Linked DNA regions of Homo sapiens: all the other regions are linked to region 3. The links come from fine-mapping of genetic effects on gene expression. A gene starts in region 3. Each other region holds a variant in brackets. All regions are shown on one strand. Distances are from middle to middle.

What was found. PIP is the estimated chance that this variant, and not a neighbour inherited with it, causes the effect.
Region 1: its variant is fine-mapped to the expression of ATP5F1C in blood mononuclear cells (TOPMed, PIP above 0.99). The same link has a PIP of 0.9 or more in whole blood.
Region 2: its variant is fine-mapped to the expression of ATP5F1C in atrial appendage (GTEx, PIP above 0.99).

The regions. Positions count from the first base shown.
Region 1 is chr10:7,815,375-7,823,556 of GRCh38, forward strand. It overlaps TAF3 (TATA-box binding protein associated factor 3), which reads left to right and starts at 3,131. Exons shown (of 7, transcript NM_031923.4): 1 at 3,131-3,501. The coding sequence starts at 3,336. It overlaps LOC105376392 (a long non-coding RNA gene), which reads right to left and starts at 2,989. Exons shown (of 3, transcript XR_001747356.1): 1 at 2,878-2,989. RefSeq lists enhancers at 2,807-3,325, 3,138-3,197, 3,326-3,843. The variant C/T (reference allele first, on the strand shown) is at 4,662.
Region 2 is chr10:7,830,957-7,839,140 of GRCh38, forward strand. The region is part of intron 2 of TAF3 (TATA-box binding protein associated factor 3); the gene reads left to right. Among named protein-coding and RNA genes, the nearest start is that of TAF3, 17 kb to the left of the region's middle. The variant A/G (reference allele first, on the strand shown) is at 4,026.
Region 3 is chr10:7,783,465-7,791,632 of GRCh38, forward strand. ATP5F1C (ATP synthase F1 subunit gamma) reads left to right here and starts at 4,713. Exons shown (of 10, transcript NM_001001973.3): 1 at 4,713-4,799. The coding sequence starts at 4,744. It overlaps KIN (Kin17 DNA and RNA binding protein), which reads right to left and starts at 4,529. Exons shown (of 13, transcript NM_012311.4): 1 at 4,356-4,529. The coding sequence starts at 4,469. RefSeq lists enhancers at 4,482-4,801, 5,254-5,797.

The DNA of each region.
Region 1 (8,182 bases), 32 kb after region 3:
CCTAGGCTGCTGTGCACTCTTTAAGCCAACAACCTTTTTTCTTTTTGTAGAGACAGGGTCTCACTGTTGCCCAGGCTGGAGTGCAGTGACTCGATCATAGCTCGCCGTAGCCTCAAACTCCTGGGCTCAAGTTATCTTCTGGCCTCTGCCTCCTGAGTAGCTGGGGCTAATTTCTTTATATATATATATATATATATATATATATATATATATTTTTTTTTTTTTTTTTTTTTTTTTTTTTTGTAGAGATGGGGGTTTCACTATGCTGCTAGGGCTTGTCTTGAACTCCTGGCCTCAAGCCATCTACCTGCCTTGGCCTCTCAAAGTATTGAGATTAAAGGCATGAGCCACTGTGCCCCACCAAGTCAATGACTTCTGTGATGCTGGGTTCCCAATAAGTAGATGACACAGGGTGGAGACTGGGGTTTCTCCACTTACATCACTCCCAGGGACCCACCTGGGAAATTGTTCTTCCTGTCCTGCCACTCTGGGTTCTCCAGGTTTACAGATCCCATTTCCAAAAGGGGGAATGCTTTCACCAGAGGACCTAGCAGGAGTCCCACTGAAACATTAGCTACAGTTGCTGCCTGGGCACTTCCACTGAGACTGCAGCTAAGAGAGGAGTCATCTTTAGGAGGGGGATGGGCTCCTATTACAGAGTGGGAGGCAAGGTGGAGTGTTTGGTTTCCACATGGTCTGTTTGGGTGCCTCTTGCCCAATTTTGGGTATTCTCTTCCCCAGTTCTGATGGTACAAGGACGAGTTCAGCAGCCACAGTCTGAAAAGGGCCTGGAAACCAGGGGCTCAGACCTGCACATGAGGGTCTGCATCATGCCACCAAATAAGCTACTGAGACCAGAAGTGAGAGAAATGTAGGCCTGAGGAGGAGAATACTGAGTATCAGCTGAGGCCTGGCTGCAGCAGTCGGGGCTCTAATTTGTCTCCTGACCTTCCTCTTTAATGTTTTCCCCAGGGAAAGGGCCCCCTCCAGAATCCTGGAGGAGCTGTTCCTCAAACCAAGAAGTGTCTCTGAGGGTAAAATAGATGAACTGTGATGAATGCTCTAATCCACTGCTCAGAGCCCCCTCAGGACTGAAGGACTTCAGCTGTCCTTGGAATTGAATGGACTCAGCTGCAGTGTTCCTTTGCCTGAGAGCACACACCCTTTCCCAGGTAGCCCTCATGCAGTGACCTGTTCCTATGGGAATATAAAGGTCCAGTCTTCTTGTTTGGATTCAGGGAAGCTCTGAAGGGCCACTCCAGCTTCTGCACACTATGGCATTGGCTTGGCTGAGGCTTTCTTGCCAAGGAATTCACTGCACCCTGGCTTTCACTCCTTCCCCCAAGTCCCAGGAGGATCCCTCAATGAACTTTCTGCAGGCTCATCTCTATTTCAGAGTTGACTTCCTGGGGAACCAAGCCTGTGACATATGGTCTTGTGTATAGTTATGTGGGGGAATGTTCTTGTTTTGGGGTGATACATGTCGAGGTGTGGTGGGGTTAAGTGTCATGAAGTTTGCAGCTTATTTTCAAACTGCTGGAAAAAAAATACCTGCGTGCATATATAAATACAAAATATATAGTAAATTGGCAAAATGTTAACAATTGGTGAATCTAGTTGAAGTGTACACGTGAGTCTATGATTTTGTTTCAACTTTTCTGTAGGTTTGAAATTTTCCGAAATAAAATCCCCTCCCCTATACACAGAAAGGCAAATGAAGAGGAACAAACACCCAGGGTGGCGGCGGTAGCGGGACAGATTTGTGAAATCCAAGGCGCAAGAGAGTTTCAATGTTACAGAAGCGTTCAACATTATCAAATAGCTACAAAATAATCAAGTACGGCTAGGACTGAAAAATGTCTCATAGATTTAGCAACACAATGTTCCTGATAACTTGGGGACAGAGTGTCCAGGGAGTAAATGCAGGCACCTTGCCCTTTAGTACCTTGCTTCTCTGCAGATCGTCATTTAGCTGAAGAACCATAATTTCAGTTCTATTATTGAGTTTCCCAGACTTTGAAAAATGTGAATATCATGTTCAAAGTTCTGGAATAGTCCCTGTCGGAGGAATATAGAGCCACTCATAAACTCGCAATTTATTGGAGGAGCACATAAACTAAATACACTGTGATAAGTACAGAAGGGCATATTTAAGAAACCGCATAGTTCAGCCACTACAATCGGGCGACCTGCAGGCTGAATCTAGACTAACCGTGGGATCAGTTTGGCTTTTGAGATGTGTTCCCAATTCTGTATTTAAAAATCAAGATATTTATCCCTAAATCCGATTTCTGGCAATACTTGGATGGAGCTGGGAGAAGGCTCTGGGGTAGGCAACCGTTCCCAGGACACTCGGCCTGCGACACCGGTTTAAGGCTCGGTTTGGCCTCTGTAGGCAGCCGAGGTCCCCATCCCCCGATAGGTCACAGCCGCGATGCTCAAATCGCACACTATAGCCCACAGGCAGCTTACCTGTTTTTTTTAAAAAAAAAAAAAAAAAAAAAGTTTTATTGGAACCAGGGCTGGGATTAGAATGACATGAGTGAGTCAGGAGTTTATGGCATGGATTTGGATTTTTTTAAAAAAACTGTTAAAATATTATCGATCTTGATGACTGAGTTTTTTGAGGCCCCCATTAATTTGGCACAGAGTCCTCCTAGTTCCTGCCCTATTGCGAAGGGCTTTGAAGGGCATGCGGAACAGCTTGGACTTTATTTAATCTTTGCAGTGGCAAGCAGCTCAATACACAGATTTTTAGCTGAGGCAACACCAGCGCAGGTCTGCGTTTGGCGAGCTCCGTAAGTTCCCACGCCCCAAACTTCTCTCTAGCACATAACTCTCTAATATGACTAACGTTATTAGTGCTAACTCTCTAACCTGTCAATGTCGTATCCCAGATCCCTCGTTTGCCTCTAAAACACTGGCGTTTTCGTCACCGCTGTCCCCCAGGTGAGCGCCCCAGCACCTGCCGCCCTGGGCGCCTCCTCCACCTGCGCGCCCCACGCCCGCTTCCGGCCGGCTTCCAGGCCTCAGAGGCGATCCCGAGGAATCGTTCCGCTCCCAAGGGGCGGAGCTTTCTCATCGCCGCGCTCGGCATTCGGCTTATGCTGCCTCGCCCCGGCGGCCGTCCAGCGGGAGGCGGAGCGAGTCCAAAATGGCGGCTCTCAGGCTGGCGCGCTCCGTGCTGCTGGGGCTTTGAGGTGGTCGCCGGGGGTCCGGGGGACCCTTTCCCCGCCGCGGAAGCCCTAGAGGATGAATCGGGGACCCTGCTAAGGTCTGGCGGCGGGGCTGGAGAGCAGTGGCAGCAAGGGCTGCGGTGGCGTCCACGCAGCGGGATGTGCGAGAGTTACTCCAGGTCGTTGTTGAGGGTCTCGGTGGCGCAGATCTGCCAGGCGCTGGGCTGGGACTCGGTGCAGCTCAGCGCCTGCCACCTCCTCACGGACGTGCTGCAGCGCTATCTGCAGCAGCTGGGCCGGGGCTGCCATCGGTACTCTGAGCTCTGTGAGTACCGGGCTGGGTGCGGGAGGGCTGCCCCGGCAAGTCAAGGGTGACACCTTCGCTCTCCCTGTCCCTCCGCGTCCCCGGGGTGTGCATCCCGCACCCCGCCTCGAGATCTGCTGTTTCCTCGGCCTCCCACGTCCCTGGGCTTCCACTGCCGCTCCAAACTCTAGTCATCCTTCGGGTGCCTCTTCCTTATCCGCTAACTTCCCGCCACCAGCCCGGGAGTCGGGTCTTCGCTCCCAGCTCCACACCCTCCTACCGCTCCTCCGCTCTGAATTGTGTCTGGATCTCTCTCATTGTCTCCTGTTTGCTGCGGGTAGATCCACCCCCAGCGTGCCCTACACCCTCTTTTACCTCGGTCCTTTTTCTCCCTTGCCCGCAAACTACTACAACTAGTTGTCACAGGCGCTCCGTCTACCGGCCGTTTCTTACAAGACTGGCCATTCCTGGGCTCCTAACTACATAGACTCGTTGACAGCTCTGCTCCGTTAGGGACACTGCCTCGTCTTTCTGTATCTGTTCGTTTCGTGAACGACATCTCCATTTACTGTTTTTCCAAGGCTGACTTTGTCAGTTTCGCTGATTAGATGTACTTTCACTTACGTCTCGGTTACCAGTGAGATGTCAGTGGCTATCGAAGTAGGATAGAGGGACCGTGGGCAGTTGACAAGATTCTCCAGGTAATCTGGGCTACAGTACTTATGAGTTTTAAATGAATGTCTGGTAATATCTATAGCTAGTGGTATTTAATAATTTAATGGAAGGAATGGAATATTTTAATAGAAGCTCCACATTATCTTGTTGATGTGAAGCATTGTATGTGTGTTTGTTGAGGAGAGGAAACTACCACTCATTTTAGTTTCAAGTCATGATGTTTAAGGTGGTGAGCTGGAGAACTGAATGAAGTGTTTCATAGGATATTTTGTTTTGTTAAAGTGGTTCCTATACTGGAAAATTGAGACTCACAGACACACGCTGTATTTCTTAGGCCCCAAGTTTCGTTCCCGCTTCCACAGGGCTGCCAAAATAATCTGTCCATAGCACAGATCTGATCCTGTCATTATTCTTAAAAACATTTTAACTATACTTCGTTGGTTACAGGCTAAAAATCGAAACTCTTAGCAGTACACAGTTCCCTTTGTGAGCTAGCATTTTGCTTA[C/T]CTTTTGCCAGCCTGCCATGCTAATCTGCGACCACGCTGAGCTACCTGCCTTTTCCAAAATGTTTTAAGCTGTCCATTCCTACATGCGTGCTGTTTCTTACCTAGAGTGTCCTTTGCCCGTGGCCCACCAATAGTATTACTTTTATTTTCAGATGCACTTATCACTTGCTCTAGGGAACTCATGTTATCTGCTTTCATAATTCTGTGCATATTTCTTTTATATTATTTGTCATCTTGTTTTGTAATCACCTGTGTATGTCTCTTTCCCCTCTCCAGGAGAAAAATTGATTATATTTGTATTCTGTAACCTGTAGGGCCATTATATAATAGGCACCTGAGAAATATTTGTTGAATAAATGAATGAACTGATAAACCACTACCCTAAAAGCCACTTATTGACTTTACATATTGAGTTCCAAAAATGTATATGTTTTGAATGCTTGATTTCACTGATACTTCTATTACTCTTCTTCTTTTGAGACAGGGTCTCACTCTGTCGCCGAGCGTGGAGTGCAGTGGTGCGATCTTAGCTCTCTATAGCCTCGAACTTCAGGGCTCAAGTGATCCTCCCGCCTCAGCCTTCCAAGTAGCTGGGACTACAGGGATACGCCACCATGCCTGGCTAATCTTTTTATTTTTTGTAGAGATGTGGTCTGGTTATATTGCTCAGGCTTGTGTCAAACTCCTGGGCTCAAGTGATCCTCCTGCCTCAGCATTTCAAAGTGCTGGGATTACAGGCATGAGCCACCATGCCCAGCTCACTGATACATCTGAATGTGGAACCACAAAGTAATATGCGTGCATTTTTATCTTGAAAGTACATCACCAGCTGACTACTCTTCTGGCTTTTGTTTCTTTTTCCTCTGGCCTCCGCTGCAGTGGTCCTTGAGTATACCGTTAGTGATAGGCTAGGCTAGGCTAGGCTAGGCATAGTCCAGATTATGTTTGCTACCATGTATCTTTAGATATTCAAAATGTCTCCTGAATACATAGTTACCTTTACTGCCATTTATACAAAACAGAAGGGAGCTGCCACTCTATGTGACTAGGTATTCCAAAGTCATCCAGGGGTCACTGCAGCTCTTCAGTGTAAACCTTGTTCCTAATTACCAAGTTTCCGTAGCCAGTTTCTTGGTTTCAGTGAGAATGAGATTGTCAGGTTCATTATTCCCACGTAATTTGGTGACTTTTTTTTAATGCTAATTTTGGTATACTTATTAGATATTTTTAGATTCTTTTTTCTATACCAGCCTTATTCTAAAATCAAATTCTGTAGCTCCAGGTTACCACTATGGAATCTTGTATTCCACCCCTTTAAATCCTTTCTGTTGTTTTAACAAACACTTACTGAGCATCACTTACGAACCAACCCCTGTACTAGGCATTGGAGACATAAAATTACTAAGATACAATCCCTGACCATAAGGTGTGTTCAAGAGTTCCAGAATGTCAGGAAACAACAAACTGATGGTGTTTGTTTCTTCTAAAAGAAATGTTCTCAAGTTAAAGCAAGTATTAGAAGTTACCATTAATTCAAATAATGAACAAATAATGAACTTAAGAATTGCCTTAGGGTAACAATGTCTCCAAGCATTCAAGGGCAGATGTCTCTGTCGGTGTCACATTATATGTTAAATATGTTGGCATGTACTGAAAGCAGGTGCTAAATCTTTCAGACTGACTCTTCAACACTAGTACTGTAATATTTTTTTGCATGGTACAGGGAGTAAATGTAAAAGGGATAAGAGGAGAGATGGCTGTAGGCTATAGATTCTGGGGTAGGATTACTTCACAGAAAAGATAAGATTTGAGTTGAGCTGTGAAGTATGGTTGTATAAAGGTATAGAGTATTCCAGCTTAGAGAATCACATAAACTAAGCTGTCCAGGTGAGATTAAGCATAATAAAAGTACCAGTAAGGTGTTCAGCTCCCTATGCAGCTAGTTCATTCCAAGGGTGTCTGAGTAAAATGTTCAACAGAGTGAGATCAGGTTATGGAAGGACTTGAAAGCTAGACAAAAGAATTAAAACATGTAGTAGAAAACATTGCATACTCCTAAGTAGGGGAATAGTATGATTAAAGTGGTATTTTAAGAAAATTGTACTGACAGTGATGTGCATAAGAGATTGAAGTGGGCAGAACTTGAGACTATACTGAGATAGTGACAGTAAGAATAGAGAGAAAGGAAAAAAATCTGAAATCATGGTTAAAAAAAAAAAAAAAAGGTGGCCGAAGGGGACGGGGACAGGGTTAGAAACTACCAGGTTTTGGTTTGAGGCTGCAAAGCATATGGAGGAATTTAAGATTATTATATTTTTTAGACTGAGAGAGTAATAATAGCTTTAATAGGAATAGAAGAGATGAAATGCCTGTTTACATTCAGTAAGAAGAAGAGTATTCGTTTTATTTATTTTCTTTTTTTAATGCATCACAGAAGTAACCCATACTTATAGAAAAAAAAAATCAAAGACTGCAGAAGTATGTGGAGTTAGAAGTCAGTCTCCTGCTTCCACCACAGCCCTCGCCTCTACTGCAGCTTCCACCCCTCGAACTGTTAACCATTGGCTGAATATCCTTCCAGAGGTTTCTGTATGCATTACTACACATGCGTCCAATTCTAGCAATATTTGGATTCTTTTTCATTTTACAGTGTGATTTAATTTCAGACATACTGAGTTTGAAGTGATCAAATTTCAGGATTTCAGTTAAAAAGTCAGGATTTCAGTTAAATCCTTTAGGCTATTGAAAATCAGAAAATGGAATTTTCATAGACATTTTTAAAGATGTAGAGACCTTAAGCTCTGCTAAGAATAGGCATAAGAAAAACTTGCTTTTGTAAAGAAAAAAATCTCTATATCTAACTTTTTATCTCTGTTTTATGTGGTGTTTTCTAATTACATTTGAAAATTTATAGATAAATTATCTTTATGGCTAGGCATGTTGGTGGTGCACTGGTAGTCCCAGCTACTCAGAAGGTGAAGGTAGGAGGATGGCTTGAGCCTGGGAAGGTAAGGTTGCAGTGAGCCATGATTGCCCTTCTGCACTCCAGCCTGGGCAGCAGAGTGAGACCCTGTCTCAAAAAACGAACAAAAACCAAACTTTTATGATCTAAGCCTTCTTTGTAAATATTCTTAGATTTTAAAAATTGATTTAATGGTATAATTCATTCAATAGGTATTTATTGAGTGCCAGCTATGTGCCAGCCACTGTTTAAGATTCTGCAGATGCATCAGGGAACAACAGAGGAAATGTAACCAACATTGACTTTGTCAGCACAGCACACTACTTATTTGATGATTAAAAAAAAAAAAAAGGCCAGGCACATTGGCTCATGCCTGTTATCCCACCACTTTGGGAGGCAGAGGCAGGAGGATTGATTGAGGCCAGGAGTTCAAAACCAGCCTGAGCAACATAGCAAGAACTCATCTCTACAAAATTAAAAAAAAAAAAATTACCCAGGCATGGTGGCATGTGCTTATAGTCCCAGCTACTCAGGAGACTGAGAGGGGAAGATCGCTTGA
Region 2 (8,184 bases), 48 kb after region 3:
AGGCTTGACCAGATTTAGGTTTGGCAAGATATCAGCTGATGATGTCCAGTTTTCACTTTTGTTGGTGTTAGCAGTGCTGATGCTCAGTGCCTAGATCCATTAATTCATTAGGGGTTACAAAGTAATGATAATACTATCACTTTGTTTTTATTTCATTCTTTAGTTGAAATAACTTTATAAGAAAATCCTTTTCCTCATCCACTATTTAGTAACTTAATGGCATAGTTTATATAGGGAAAGCAGGGTTAACGCTTGATTTTTTTCATATGGTATATTCCCAGTTTTCATGAGAATAAATTGGTTCCTTGTTATCCTTAGCAGGTGACTAGTTTCATTTAATACTCTATCATTGTGAACTCACAGATTTAAACATACTTGACGGATTTCATTCATTACTTTTTTTTTTTGAGATGGAGTCTCACTCCATCGCCGAGGCTGGAGTGCAGTGGCTCAATCTTGGCTCACTGCAACCTCTGCCTCCCAGGTTCAAGGGATTCTCCTGCCTCAGCCTCTCCAGTAGCTGGGATTACAGGCATGTGCCACCACGCCCGGCTAATTTTTGTATTTTTAGTAGAGGCGAGGTTTCACCATGTTGGCCAGGCTGGTCTTGATCTCCTGATCTTGTGATCCTCCTGCCTCGGCCTCCCAAAGTGCTGGGATTACAGGAGTGAGCTACCGTGCCCGGCCTCATTACAGTTTTTTACCCATATTGTAGCTTTAATTGTTGCATCTTTGGCCAGTGGCAGCTTCTTCACTCTTGCTTCTGAGTCCTTTTGACACATGACCCGAATTGGCTTTGGTGACGTCCTCACCTTCTGGTATATCAAAATGTTCTAGACTCAGCATGTATAGTCATGTTCTATGCTTGGTATAAATTATCTGTCCAGGAAACCCTGGTTTCTTGGAAAGTAGTATTTCTTTTCTTTTTTTAATTTTAATTTTTTTTAATTATAAAATTTCAGGTTACATTTGTATATATCTGGGGGGTGCAAAGCGATGTTATGTTTTATAAATACAATGTGGAATAATTAAGTCAAGCTAGTTAACATACCTGTCACCTCAAATGCCTATCGTTTTTTGTGGAGAGAACATTTAAAACTTACTCTCTTAATGATTTTCAAATGTGTAATACATTATTATTTTTCTTTTTCACCATGCTGTGCAATGTATCAAAAAAAGTACTCCTCCTGTCAGATTGAGGCTTTGTACCCTTTGCCTATCATCTCTGTATCCCCACATCCCCACATCCCCTGCCCCAGCCTCTGTAACCACTGTTCTACTCTCTGCTTCTTGGAATTTGGTTCTTTTCGTCCACATATAAGTGAGAACATGTGGTATGTCTCCTTCTGTGCCTGGCTTACTTCACTTAGCAGAATTGTTTGAATTCCATCTATGTTGTCACAAATGACAAAATTTCCTTCTTTTTTTAAAGGCTGAATAATAATACTTTTTAATTTTTATGGGTACACAGTAAGTATAAATATTTATGGAGTACATAAGAATTTTAATAAAAGCACACCACAATGTGTAGTAATTACATCAGACTAAATTGGATATTTACCACCTGAAGCATTTATCATTTCTTTCTTATTTATTTATTTATTTTTGAGACAGTCTCGCACTGTCACCCAGGCTGGAGTGCAGTGGTGTGATCTCAGCTCACTGCAAGCTCCATCTCCTAGGTTCAAGTTTAAGTGATTCTTGTGCCCCACCCTCCCCAGTAGTTGGGATTACAGGTGCCCACCACCACACCCGGCTAATTTTTGTGTTTTTAGTAGAGATGCGATTTCACCATGTTGGCCAGGCTGGTCTGAAACCCCTGGCCTCAAGTGATCTGCCCACCTCAGCCTCCCAAAGTGCTGGGATTACAGGCATGAGCCACTGCACCTGGCCCAGCATTTATCATTTCTTTGTGCTACAGATATTCCAGTTATACTCTTTTAGTTATTTTTAAATGTACAGGGTGCAGTAGCTCACACTTGTAATCTTGTCACTTTGGGAGTCTGAGGCAGGAGGATGATTTGAGGCCAGGAGTTCGAGATAAAATGTTCAATAAATTATTGTTGACTTTAGTCACCCTGTGGTGCTATTAAAGGCTGAATAGTATTCTGTGGTGTATATATATTACATTTTCTTTATCCACTCATCTGTTAATGGACACTTAGGTTATTTCTGTAACTTGGCTATTGGGAACAGTGCTGCAGTGAACTTGGGAGAGCAGAATCTCTTCCACATAATCTTTTCAAATCTTTTGGGTAAATACTCAGGAGTGGGGTTGCTGGATTATATGGTAATTCTATTTTGAGTTTTTGGAGGAAACTCCACATAGTTTTCCATGACTACTAATCTAAATTCCCACCAACAGTGTACAAGGATTCCCCCTTTTCTCCACATCCCTGCTAACACTTGTTACCTTTCATCTTTTTTATAGCAGCCATTCTAACAGGTGTGAGGTAATATCTCACTGTGGTTTTATTTCTGTAATGATTAGTAATGTTGAACATTTTTTCATGTATTTGTTGGCAGTTTGTATGTCTTATTTTGAGGAATGTCTATTCATTTTTTATTGGATTATTTCTTTCTGTAGGGTTTTCTTTTTTCCTTTTTTGGGGACCCAGCAATACTGCTGATTTATTACAAGTCCCCAAGAGGGCTTCAGTTTTTCTTTTCAACATCCTGTTCTGTAGCTTCCATGTCTCTTTTTGTCCATATGTGGAGGAGCCAGGCATTGGCACGGGCCATGCAGCAACTAGCAAAGGCTCTGAAATTCTTCTCCTCAGTGGTGACTTGAGCTTTCTCCTTCTCATAGACATTCTGGATGGGCATGACTGGTCCTGTCAGCTGGGTGGCCAATTGCAGTTCTTCAGCAGAACTGTCTCCCTTCCTGGGGACCGAGGGCTTCCTGGGGAAGAGGATGAGTTTGGAGCGGTACCCCTTCAGCCGCTGCACAGTGCGTGTGGAAGTGGGGCTTCAAGATCTTGCCATTCCCGCTGGGCACCATGGCTGCCTGCTGTCCTCCGGCACAGGACAACAGCCAGACTGTTCTTTCTATAGAGTTGTTTGGGTTCCTTATATATTTTGCCTTTTTTTTTGGTGGTGGTTGTGGCTCTTGTTGTTGTTGAGTTGCTTACATGTTTTGGGCGTGAGCCCCTTGTCAGATGTGTGGGTGCACGTGTTTTCCTCCTCACCCACAGGTTGTGCCTTCACTCTGCTGTTTCCTTTATTGTGCCAAAGCTTTTTATTTTGATGGAATCCCATTTGTTCAGTTTTGCTTTTGTCACCCTGCGCTTTTGGGGCCAAATATAAAAAATAATTGCCCAGACCAGTGTCTTACAGTTTTTCCCCTATGTTTTCTTTTAGCAGTTTTGTAGTTTCAAGTCTTACATTTAGGTCTTTATTCCATTTTGAGTTGATTTTTCTAAGTGGTATGAGATAAGGATCCAATTTCATTCTTCTGCATATGGATATCCAGTTGTCTCCACGCTGGGAAATAGCATTTCAAGTACACAGTCTCGGTGCTAAGGGATACTTATTATATATAACTCGGTTGTTCATTGTTTCTAGGCAATAAGTAAATAAATATTTATATACATGTAGATGTGTGTGAATAGATAGATAGGTGGATAGGGTTCCTCCTGAGTTCATGCAGATTTTCCAATTCATATTTAGGACTACAAGGTTTTTATTTTTTATGTTACATCCATAAATACTGTCATCCATACTGAGAATTCTGGTTCTCAGGAATAAAGAAGATGATAAAATTAGAATATTCCATAATTATTCATTTGCTTTATCCCAGATTACACGTACAATATTGCAACTGATACTATCATTCATGATTACTGAAACAGGTAAAAAAAATTTTTTTTGCTCATTCTGTCCTATGAAACCAATTTTCTTTCATTTTACCGTGTGTATCTTGTCAGATCATATAGCTACTGTCTTGAGTTCTGCTACCTAATTTCTGAGTTTTTTCTGATTTTGATTTATATACTTTCATGTCTTTTAGATCATTTCAAGATAGA[A/G]CATTATAGGTTCATCAGTTTTTTCGAGTGTGTGTTTCTCTCGTACTTTCATTGTCTGGAGGGATGTTTTGCTATTTAGTCTTCTCTTCTTTATAGAAACTATATGTGAGTTAGTTTTCTGAGCCTTTAGAACACAGGTGTCCAATCTTTTGGCTTCCCTGGGTCACACTGGAAGAAGAAGGATTGTCTTTGGCCACACATAAAATACACTAACACCATCGATAGCTGCTGAGCTAGAAAAAAAAGTCACACACAAAAAAGTCATAATGTTTTAAGAAAGTTTACAACTTTGTGTTGGGCTGCATTCAAAGCCGTCCTGGGCCGCATATGGCCCATGGGCTGTGGGTTGACAAGCTTGCTTTAGAAGGAGATTCAGGGTAGCTCCTCTGACTTTGCAGTGCTCCCTCTTCTATCGTTTTTGCGGAATGTTCCAAATATGGGAACTTGCTCACTGAGATTTTTTGTTTGTTTTCCTCCACCACTTTTACCTGGATCTTCTCTTCCCTTCATGTCAGTTTTCCTTTTTCTGGCCAGCTGTGATTCCACTGCCAGCTGTGTCCTCTCAGCGAGGCTCTGTCCTGGCAGAGAGCAGCCAGGGTCAAGTCTGAGAGCTCCTGGGCTCAACTTCTAGCCCCATTGGATCTCACTCAGCCCCTTGTACTCCCTGTACTGGAAGTGGTCCCATCCTTCCCAGCCTCAGCCGCTCTTCTCGGGTTGGCCTGCCGGGCTTTCCAGCAGAGGCCTGGTGGCCCTTTTGGGGTTTTCCTGTTTCAGGTCAGTCTTCCCGTTGCTTCTCACTGTTTCCCTTGCATAGATGCCTCATACTCGGGTCTCATGGCGCTTGGTGGCATGTTGTCACCTGCATGTATTTTGGCACTGATGGGTGTACTCTGTCACCTGGTTATGTTGGGAAGATGCACAAACTACCTTGCCCCAGCTACCACTTTCTTCCCAGGATTCCCCTTATTGAAGCTTTTTGCTGCTTTCATCACTGTTGGGCAATTCCTGAAGCTGCTTTTCTTCAGCGCCATCATACTCCCTTAACTCTCCTTATATGATGAGCTCCATCTTGGGGCCTTTCTTGGGCACGTCTTCCCTGGCTCTCCTACTGCTAAAACATTGGTGCTTCTAAAATTTTATCCTTCACCTACTATGTTTCTCACGTTACTTAGTTTCAGAGTTGACTTTCCTACTCTCATAGTTTGAACCCCCATCTGTATGCTGATGCCTCCCCAAACTGTCCCTCTACATCCACCTCTCAGACCCTGCAACCAGTTGCAGTTGGCCATTTCCACGTTTTCTTTTTTCTTTCTTTTTTTTTTTTTTGAGACGGAGTTTCGCTCTTGTTGCCCAGGCTGGAGTACAATGGCACAACCTCCGGCTCCCTGGTTCAAGTGATTCTCCTGTCTCAGCCTCCCGAGTACCTGGGATTAGAGGCATGAGCTACCAAGCCCAGCTAATTTTGTATTTTCAGTAGAGACGGGGTTTCTCCATGTTGGTCAAACTGGTCTTGAACTCCCGACCTTGGGTGATCTGCCCACCTTGGCCTCCCAAAGTGCTGGGATTACAGGCGTGAGCCACTGCACCCGGCCCATTTCCACATTTTCTTACCACGAATACACCTGTGTTATCCATCTCAGTTGGTGGCACCATCTCTACTCAGTCACCTAAGCTAGAAACATGAGAATTAGCATTGACCTCTTCTCTCATTCTCCTTCATTCCCTATCTCTAATTCTGCTAATTTTCTTTCTTAAAAAATTTCCAAAATATTATTGCATCACTTCCTTTGTTTAAACCTTTATCTCTTGTCTGAACTGTCCTTATCCTCTAAACGAAACTATTAGACAAAAAATTAACACATCCCACATTATAAAACACTTTGTTGGCTCTCCAACTGCTTACAGTTACCAAAAATACCTATGGAGAGGAGTTTTCTTTTTTGCATCAAAATGAAAAGAGCTTTGGTTGAGTGTGATGGCTCATGCCTATAATCCCAGCACTTGGGAGGCCAAGGCAGGAGGATCGTTTGAGCCCAGGAATTTGAGACCAGCCTGGACAACATAGTGAGACCTTGTTTCTATAAAAAATTTAAAAATCTGGCCAGGCGTGGTGGCTCACACCTGTGATCCCAGCACTTTGGGAGGCCAAGGTGGGCAAATTGCTTGAAGTCAGGAGTTCAAGACCAGCCTGGCCAACAGGGTGAAATCCTGTCTCTACTAAAAATACAAAATTTAGCTGGACATGGTGGCATGGGCCTGTAGTCCCAGCTACTCGGGAGGCTGAGGCAGGAGAATTGCTTGAACCAGGGAGGTGGAGGTTGCAGTGAGCCGAGATTGCACCACTGTGCTCCAGTCTGGGCAAAAAAAAAAAAAAAAGTCAGCTGGGTGTGGTGGCTCATGCCTGTAATTTCAGCACTTTGAGAGGTTGAGGCGGGCTGATCACTTGAGGCCAGGAGTTCAAGACCAGCTTGGCCAGCATGGCGAAACCTCGTCTCTACTAAAAATACAAAAATTAGCTGGGCGTGGTGGTGCGTGCCTGTAATCTCATCTACTCGGGTGGCTGAGGCACAAGATTTGCTTGAACCTGGGAGGCAGAGGTTGCAGTGATCTGAGATTGCACCAGTGTACTCCAGCCTGGGCAAAAGAGCAAGACTCTGTCTCAGAAAAAATAAAAAATAAAACAATTAGCCAAGAGTGGTGATGTAAGCCTGAGAGGCTGAGGTGGTGTAAGTACTCAGAGGCTGAGGTAGGGGGATCACTTGAGTCTGGGAGGTTGAGGCTGAGGCTGCAGTGAGCCACTGCACTCCAGCCTGGGTGACAGAGTGGGACCCTGTCTCAAAAAAATAAAAAGGGAATAGCTGTAGTTATTCAAGAGAAAAGATGTTTATTCTTACAACGTAGATTACTTACTGATTTAATAGAGGAATGTTAATGAAGATATTTGCATGGCTTTCAGTTGCTAAAATAATGTTTGTGTATGTAAAAGCAGCCATCAAATAATTTATCCTTGATATCACATAATATATTCATAAACATTATCTCATTTAATCTTGAAACAGGTCCTAAAGGCAGATGCTGCTATCATTCCCATTTATGGAAGGAGAAATGGAAGTTTAAAAATCATAATTGAATTAACCTGCCTCGTGTTGCATTGGGAATTGGGAGCAAAGCTGGATTAGGGTTTAGTTGACTCCGTTCAGTGCTGTGTGTATGGGTACCTGCCATGAGTCGGATCCTACACAAGGAACTGGTGTTGAATATAGAGAGATGAGTGAGATATTCCTCTCTCCCCATTTTGGCCTTTCTGCTGTTGTTTGGAAGTCCCTGCTTGGCCAGGACTGTCCTAAGCAGAAGAGTACCTTTACCAAGCCAGTTTTGTTTTTTTTTGTTGTTGTTGTTTGTTTGTTTGTTTGTTTTTGAGACAGAGTCTCACTCTGTTGCCCAGGCCAGAGTGCAGTGGCCTGATCTCGACTCACTGCAACCTCTGCCTCCCGGGTTTGAGCGATTCTCCTGCCTTAGCCTTCCAAGTAGCTGAAATTACAGGTGTGCACCACCACGCCTGGCTAATTTTTGTAATTTTTGTAGAGGTGGGATTTCACCATGTTGGCCAGGCTGGTCTCAAACTCCTGACCTCAGGTGATCCACCCACCTAGGCCTCTCAAAGTGTTGGGATTATGGGCGTGAGCCACTGTGCCTGGCCAAGCTGGTTTTCTTAATGGGCAGGCAGGCTTCTTGAATACCTTCTGGCCCCCTAACATCCGACGCTATAAGCCTCCTCCACACCCAGCCTCCTAGTTAAGGATCTGGCTGCCTCTCTCTTGGCCCTCTCAGATACCTTCCTGTTCATTACCTTGTTAGGCTGGAGTTCCAGGGTCTGGGGAACGTTCCTTCTGTGTATCTAGGGAAGTTGTCTGGAGGCATTGCTTGTTTTTTTTTTTTTTTGGTTTGTTTGTTTTGTTTTGTTTTTAAATCCAGCAGCATCTGAGCCAGATAATTGCAGCTGAAATCGTACCAAGGGCTGATGTTGGGATATGCCTGTGGTGTTCAGTACACGTGTCTTAGCATAAACCTACAGGGCCCTGTGTGATCGGACTCCTGCCCACTTGACATGTTAGTTACTTGCCCCTCGTTGCTTCGTGCTTTACCTTCCAGAATCATT
Region 3 (8,168 bases):
TCCATTTTTTAGACTTAAGTTAATCAATTCTCATTGAGCACATACTTTATACAAAGTGTCAGACAAGTGCTCAAAGGAGTAAAATGGGTCATTAGTGAATTTTCACCACAGAAACTACTTTCGCTCACTTTCCTCTACTTCAGCTCATTATCCAAAATACATTGCTGCATATTATATTAACCTTGTTAAACATATTAAATCTGTACCTTCTTAAAATGACAGGAAAAAAACATACAAGTTTTGACTTAGTATACCTCTCCTTAATATTTGACCCTCATTCTTCACTAGTAATAGAAACAAAAAATGTGCCTTTCTTGTATTCCCTATCTCTATCTGAAGCACAAGCACCCAAGCCATGAAACCAGACAACATCCTAGATTCCTTCTTCTCTTTCTACCTCCAATTTAATAGGAAGTCTATTCAGCTTCTTAATAACCCATATTCAGTCCCTCTGATCAATCTCACTGACACCGTCCAGATTTCCACACTCGATTTTGCTTCAAATAGTTTCCTAATCTTTAGATCATGGACCTCTTACACAATTTTTGCCTCATCTGTGCCCTATAAGAATCATAGTTATTATTTAAATTTATTTTTAAAAGAAACTTGGTATCAGCCTCATAAATAAACAGTATCACTTTCCATATATTAAAAAATAAAATAAAATGAACAAACAATACAGTTACTAAATCCTAGAAACCCAGGAGTAGATTGGGGGGATACCCTGGCTCTGACCTTCATTCTCTTCAGCCTTCCAGTATCAGGAGATTACAGAAAAGAATTAATCCTTTACTCCTTTCCCAAAAAAATTGCATCTCAGTTTAACATTTAAGGATGGCCAGACACAGTGGCTCATGCCTGTAATCCCAGCACTTTGGGAGGCCAAGGCAGGAGGATTGTGTGAGCCTCCGAGTTCAAGACCAACCTGAGCAACACAATGAGACCTCCATCTCCACAAGATATTTTTTGAAAATTAGCCAGGCATGGGTGGTATGTGCCTATAGTCCCAGCTACTTGAGAGGCTGAGGCGGGAGGATTGCTTAAGCCCAGGAGTTGGAGGATGCTGTGAGCTATGATCGAGCCACTGTACTCCAGTCTGGGCAAGAGTAAGACCCTGTCTCAAAAACAAAAAAAAATAAGTTTAAGGATAACCAAATAGCCCTAGTTGATGAGCAAAAGCTCATTTGTACAAAAGCATGGCAGCCAATCATAAATGTTAAAAAAAAATTAGAAAAATAACCTCTTTGCAACTCCTAATAAAATAACTGACTCAGGCAAGGATGCTAAAACACACAGGTAAAAGGTTAATGGGAAACTAGATATATAGGTATGATTTCTAAGTATTACCCCAATACTCACTTGCTCTTACAAGGGGGAAAATAATACTTTCTAATATTATTTACAAGCTGTCACCTTTACTCAATTTAAGTACTACCAAACATTATTGGCTTCCTTATATGATGCTATATGAGATATACAAGATCACCTATAAAGAATACTATAGGCTGGGCATGGTGGCTTGAGCCTGTAATCCTAGCACTTTGGGAGGCCGAGGCAGGAGGAGTGCTTGAGTTCAGGAGTTTGAGACCAGCCTGGGCAACATGGGGAGACCCTATCTCTATACAAATAAAAAAGTTAATTAGGCATGGTGGCAATCACCTGTGGTCCCAGCTACTTGGGAGGCTGAGGCAGGAGGAGGATTGCTTGAGCTGGGAAGGTCAAGGTTGCAGTGAGCCATGATCGCGCCACTGTACACGAGCCTGGGCTACCAATTGAGACCTTGTCTCAAAAAAAAAAAAAAAAATCATATTCCTCCCTGCAAATGTTTAACCTGAAATTAATCTATCAAGATCACCTACAAAGTATTCTTTCTCCCCAAAATGTTTAATCTAACCCAATCAAAGCTTTTAGATATAATTTCCAGTTGACAGAAACTACGAGTTAGAAGGCAAAAGACAACCAGAGGAAACAAGTCAACATATATGGGATGCTACAGGACAACAGCCTGGCCTCCTCTCTTCAACAAGTCAATGTCAAGAAAAAGACGGCTGGGCGCAGTGGTTCACACCTGTAATCCCAGCACCTTGGGAGGCCGAGGCAGGTGAATTACCTGAGGTCGGGAGTTTGAGACCAGCCTGGCCAACGTGGCAAAACTTCGCCTCTACCAAAAATACAAACATTAGCCAGGTGTGGTGCCAGGCACCTGTAATCCCAGCCTGTAAAGTAGCTGGGACAGCTACTTGGGAGGCTGAGGCATGAGAATCACTTGAACCCGGGAGGCAAAGGTTGCAGTGAGCTGAGATCGCATCACTGCACTCCAGCCTGTGAGACAGGTGAGACTCTGTCTAGAAAAAAAAAAAAAAGAAAAAGGGGTGGAGGGAAAATGGGTTATATTCTAAATTCAGAATATAGAGAAAATTAAATTTGGAGAAAACTAAAAGTCCTAATAACTCAGAGCACAGAGGACTTTTTGGGCAGTTAAACTATTTTGTGAGATTTTATAATGGTGAATACGTATCATTATGCATTTGTCAAAACCCATAGGATGTACAACACCAAGAGTGAACCCTAATGTAAACTATGGATTCTGGATGATACTGATGTGTCAATGTAGTTTCATCCATGGTAACAAATATAACACCTCGTTGCAGGATGTTGATGATGAGGGAGACTGGAGAGGGGAGCGGAGGTCCTAATAACCAAACCTATAACAGTCTATTGCTTTTGATCGAATCTTGATTTCAAGGAGCAGTTGGAGGACAACTGAGGAAGTGTGAATGTGTATTAGATGATAAAGAGGAACTTCTATTAATTGTGTTATGTTGATGACATATACTATGGTTATATAGAAAAGTATCCTGAAATTTTAGAGATGCCTATTTAAGTATTTAAAGGTGAAATATCCTGATATTGGTATTTACCTTAAAATATTTTTTAAAAAGTAAATACGGCAAAATTACTTAAAGTGTTAAGTCTGGGTGTTACAGACTGCATGTCTGCGTCCCCTCAAAGTTCATATATTGAACCCTAACCCCCAAGGGAATGGAATTAAAAGGTGGGCCTTTGGAGATGACTGGATTTAGATGAGGTCACAAGGGTAGAGCCTGCATGATGAACAGGGTGGGACCGTATCTCAAAAAAAAAAAGAGGAAGAGAAGTTTCTATTAGAGCTTGCTCTATCTGCTTTGTGAGGATAGAGGCAGTTTCGCAAACCAAGAAGAGGACCCTCACTAGAATCTGACCATGCCAGCACCTTGATCTTGAACTTCCCAGCCTCCAGAACTGTGAGAAATAAATTTCTGTCATTTAAACCACCCAGTCTACTGCACTTTATATGGCAGTCCAAGCAGACTAAGACATTAGATAATGCATATACAGGTATTCCTTAATAGAACTAAAGAGAGTAACTGTATCAATATTAGTATGAGTCCTACCTAAAATACCTCTTCCTTCACTTGCAGAAACACTGGATTAGATTATTCCAATTGCCTCAGTGTTCTTCCACCCTTACCCAATCCAGTCCAATCTCCGGAGAAAAATATGATCACATCACTAGCCTGCACAGCATTCAATCAACCACCTCTTTAATGGGGAAAAGTGTAAATTCCATAGTGTAGCCATATAAGGCTTTTCGAGATCTGCCCAGACTCCTTGAGCCACTCTATATATACTTCACTCATTTAAAACTCAGCGACAATCCTACAAGTAGGTGAAATTATTATTCCCTCTTTACAGATAAGTAAAGGGGAATATAAGTAAATAACTTGCCCAAGACCACACGGTTGGTAAGTGGCCCTGCTTGACTTTAAATTTTGACAGTCTGATATATCCATAAACCAGATAAATCCATAATTTTAACCACAATATTATTCTGTGCCCGGTACAGTGTAGGTGCTCAATAAATGCTTGCTAGATGAGTAGTGTGGAAGAGCTTAGCTCTCCTTTTTCACCTGATCCCAAAAGAGGAGTGAATCCTAACCACCCTGTTTCTCTTAAGAGTCAAGTCAAGTAAGAGCTGATGACTGTTACTGGCATTGCCCGGGCGTCTAGTATTGCAGTATCCCCGCCCCTGTGAGGGGTGCAAAACCTTTTCTGATTTCATTTCTTTGGTGGTGGGGATCGGACTGGGGAGGAATGAGGGGTCGCAGAACACAGGCTGCCCGCTGGGCCCGGGGGCTGCGGGGAGGGACGGCTCTCGTGCGCTGAGTAGTTGACTCGCCCACTGCAGACCTCAGAAGCCTCACGACCCGGACCCCGGGAGCCCCAGCCCCGCGCCCTCAGCCCCGCGTCCAGGACCTGATCCTGGATTGCCAGGGGCCCTCCTGGGAAGACGGGGCCACTCCGGGCCCACTCACCTCGTCCCGGCACTGCTTCTGGCACATCTGGCAATACCAGCGTAGCTTCTGCAGCCCCTTGGACTTGATCCTGTTGGCGATAGCCTTGGGAGTAAGAAAATCCGACTTCCCCATGGCGACCACGGCAGCGATCACTTTCTGGACCCCAGTACTCAGCCAGCCGGAAACGGAACCGGGCTGGCGGCGGTGGGCGGGACAAATCCCAGCTGAGAGGCGGAAGGAGGTGGGGCCTGGGAAGACTGGGTTGCAACGGTCGCGAGACTCCCCTCGCCGTAGCGCGAAGAAACGAGACTGAAGAAGAGAGCAAGGTGGGAGGGGCGCGCTGGGGAGCTTCGGCGCATGCGCGCTGAGGCCTGCCTGACCGACCTTCAGCAGGGCTGTGGCTACCATGTTCTCTCGCGCGGGTGTCGCTGGGCTGTCGGCCTGGACCTTGCAGCCGCAATGGTATGGCAGCTTGCGGGAAGATCGGCAGGACCGCAAGGGATGGAAGAGCTTGGGCACGGGGCAGGGAGGAGGAGATGGGCGCGGGGGCAGATGTGGGGTCGCAGGGCCTAGCTGGGCCCCTGGCCCGTCGGAGGCGCCGGGTAGCGGGGGCTGCAGGAAGCGGCTCTGAGGTCGGGCAAGGTGTGCGCAGGGCCGGGCTCCGGCGGAGCAAGGTCCCGCCCGGTTCCCTGAGGTCGGAGGGCCACCTGGGACCTCGGGACTGCGGCCTGAGTCCAAATTGACGTCTGGGCGGTCTTGAGTTCCCTCAGCTAATCAGCACTTCCTGAGCTTCCACTTCCACTGCAAGCCAGGCCCCCAGTCTCAGGGCCTGCAAGGTGACGGGAGCCTGAGCAATAGCCCAGGGGAAGGTTAAGTCGTGCTTTTTGTCCTTGACGCCCTTTGAAACCCTGTAGTGCTGGACAGAGTGACCCTTTAAGATTCGATCGAGTCAGAGAGCGCGGCCGTCGAGCACCTCCCGTGTTGCAGACGCTTTGCTGGGTGCTGCAACAGCAAAGGCGAACATCCTAGATGCCTCTGAGGGTGGTTTTGGTGCAGAAGGGACCGTACAGATCTGTCTGAGGGCGGGGAAGGGAAGGACACCTAGCACTACCTTGAAACCACTTGCTGAAACCGTAACCCTGCAAGGTCATGAAATTGCCCCCAGGTCCTGGGGGAGGAGTTCGGTGGGCTTTTAAGTGGCATTTGTTAACTGACATGCAACTAAAGGGTGCCACGAGCCTCGAGAATTTTAAACATTAGTTCCGGGTAGGGGGACCTGGGCTGGGGGAAGTGCATATTAGAAGGCCCGGGAATGGGCAGGTAAAAGTTGGTTTGTGGGTGGTGCTGTTCAGTTTTGAAGCTTGACGGAATCTGGAAGAATTCCAGACACGCTGCTAAGGGGATTCTAGGCTGTGTCGTAGCAATTCCCTGCTCTTAACAGTGTGGAGGATTTCTAAGGCGCTACAGTGCTAAACTAGATTTTCGTATCCTAATTTATATGAAGGGACCATAAAGCATTAGTTGAAATAAATAGGTTTTTCATTAAGCAAATAACTGATAGTAATATACGAGATTTTCAGAATGATATCTGATGTGAATTAGCCACATAAAATTTTTGGTGGCTTGGCCTTGGAAGTCAGATTTTTTTTTCTCTAATATGGAAAAAGAACATTCATGGGAATTAAAAGGTCACTGTAGTTGAATTCTCAGTTGTATAGATTGTCCCACTTGTTAACCACTCAGCAGACATTAGCTGAGTGCTTCCACTCCACCCGGTGGTACTTGGAAAGTGCCCAAATGTGATGGTGAGCAAATAGATAAGGTCTCAGTCAGTTTCCTGGGACAGTGCCTGGCATGCAGTGGTGCTCTGCGAACATCAGCTCTCCTGGCCTTACCTTCTTGCCACGCATTAATGTTATCTGTCAGTATTTTTACAACCTTAGTTTCTAAGTTGATCTTTAAAAAAGTGGAAATAGTTTCTGAAACAAAGACAATATTTTACAAAAAATTTTAGAAATATCTTTTTTTAAAGCACCTGTAAGATAATTTGAAGCTCTTTTAGTGAAGGATTGTTTTAAATAAGAGCTCTCAGTTCAAGACAACTACTGTTAGGAGCTTAAATCGGAACCACAATCAGCATATAAAGGTCCTAATCCTGACCTTAATCCCTTTGGAATATTGGTTTTATAAATCATCAATCAACAGTGTTCCACTATGAAAGCATATTCTGTCTTCTTCTTTTCATGTATTCCTTCACTGCTGGTGCTTAATGTCTTTCCTTCCTCTTCTGCCATTTCTCTTTCCATGAATTATAATTGCCTTTTGAATTCAGAAATTAAAACCACTCCACAGAATTAATTTGGAAGGGGAAGAAAAGACCTTTGTCTTAACGAACCATGAAGAGGCATATTTCCATGCTTCTGTCTTGATTACTGGAAGTTTTTTAAAGTACAATTTGTTATTTTAGTTTTTGTTTTCAGAGAGGCTACCATGCTAACATAAAAACATTAGGCTTACTTAAATTCACAGTGGTTATTTTAATAGTTGTTAGGGTATCGGCAAAATACTCTAACGTTTTGAAAATTAAACCTTTTTTTTAAAGCAGCATATAAGAAAATGGAAATTAAAAATTTGAGAGAAAGAATCCCGGATTTTACTGTCTTCAAATTTGGGAAAAACATTTCTATTTCTTAGAGTTCAGTAGTCTCTAAAATGGAACTGTTTTTTAATAACGTGTCAGTAGTCATAAACTACAGATACCGATAAGGAGATGGCATTTCAGGAGAGAAAAGACAAATTGTCATCTGAGACCATGAGGGCAGATATTTACTAATAAATGTAAAAAATGTGAGGCAGCAGAGTGTAGTACTGTATGAAGAGAGAGACTCTGTAGCCAGCCCTGAAGGGCTGCATTCAGACGGCAGGGATTGAATTCTGATTGCCACTTAGCAGCTCTGTGACCTTGGGCAGGTTACTCAGTGTCTGTCCCACCAGTTCCTCATCTGTCAAATATATGCAATAAAAGTGCACAATTCAGTGGGTTAGTGTGAGGATTAGAGTATTTGCAAAGCATGTAGGACAATGGGGGAAATGCTGATAGGGATCCAAATGCTGTATATCAGTAGAGAAATGAAGAGTTTTTAAGTACAGTTTCTACATCAAATGTAATGTAAGAAGATTGCTTGGACTTGCGAAAAGAGGAAAAGAAGATGCAGTCGGGCTAGGCGCAGTGGCTCACGTCTGTAATCCCAGCATTTTGAGAGGCCGAGGCGGGCGGATCACAAGGTCAGGAGATCAAGACCATACTGGCCAACATGGTGAAACCCTGTCTGTACTAAAAATACAAAAATTACCCAGACGTGGTGGTACGCACCTGTAGTCCCAGCTACTCGGGAGGCTGAGGCAGGAGAATTGCTTGAACCCGGGAGGCGGAGGTTGCAGTGAGCTGAGATCGTGCCACTGCATTTCAGCCTGGCGACACAGTGAGACTCCATCTCAAAAACAAAAAAAAAAAGATGATGCAGTCATGGGTGTGGGTTAGGTAAGTGTGAAGGAGTCAGTTTTTGCTGGTGGCAGGTAATGGACTTTTACACGCTTAATATCAGAATTAGAGTCACTTCATAATTTTCGTTGAGAATTAGCCAATATTGCTTGCTTTTTAAGTTTTTATGTATCTTAATATACTCCTTAAAAATCTCTCAAACAATAGTTTCTTGGAAGGGTGTCATTCCTGACTCCCTCCTCCACTGCCTTCGTCAGCTGTTATAACAGCGCTGTGGAATCATGGTAGATAGTGGTAATCCACGGTCCATTTGATTCTCCCTCCACTGT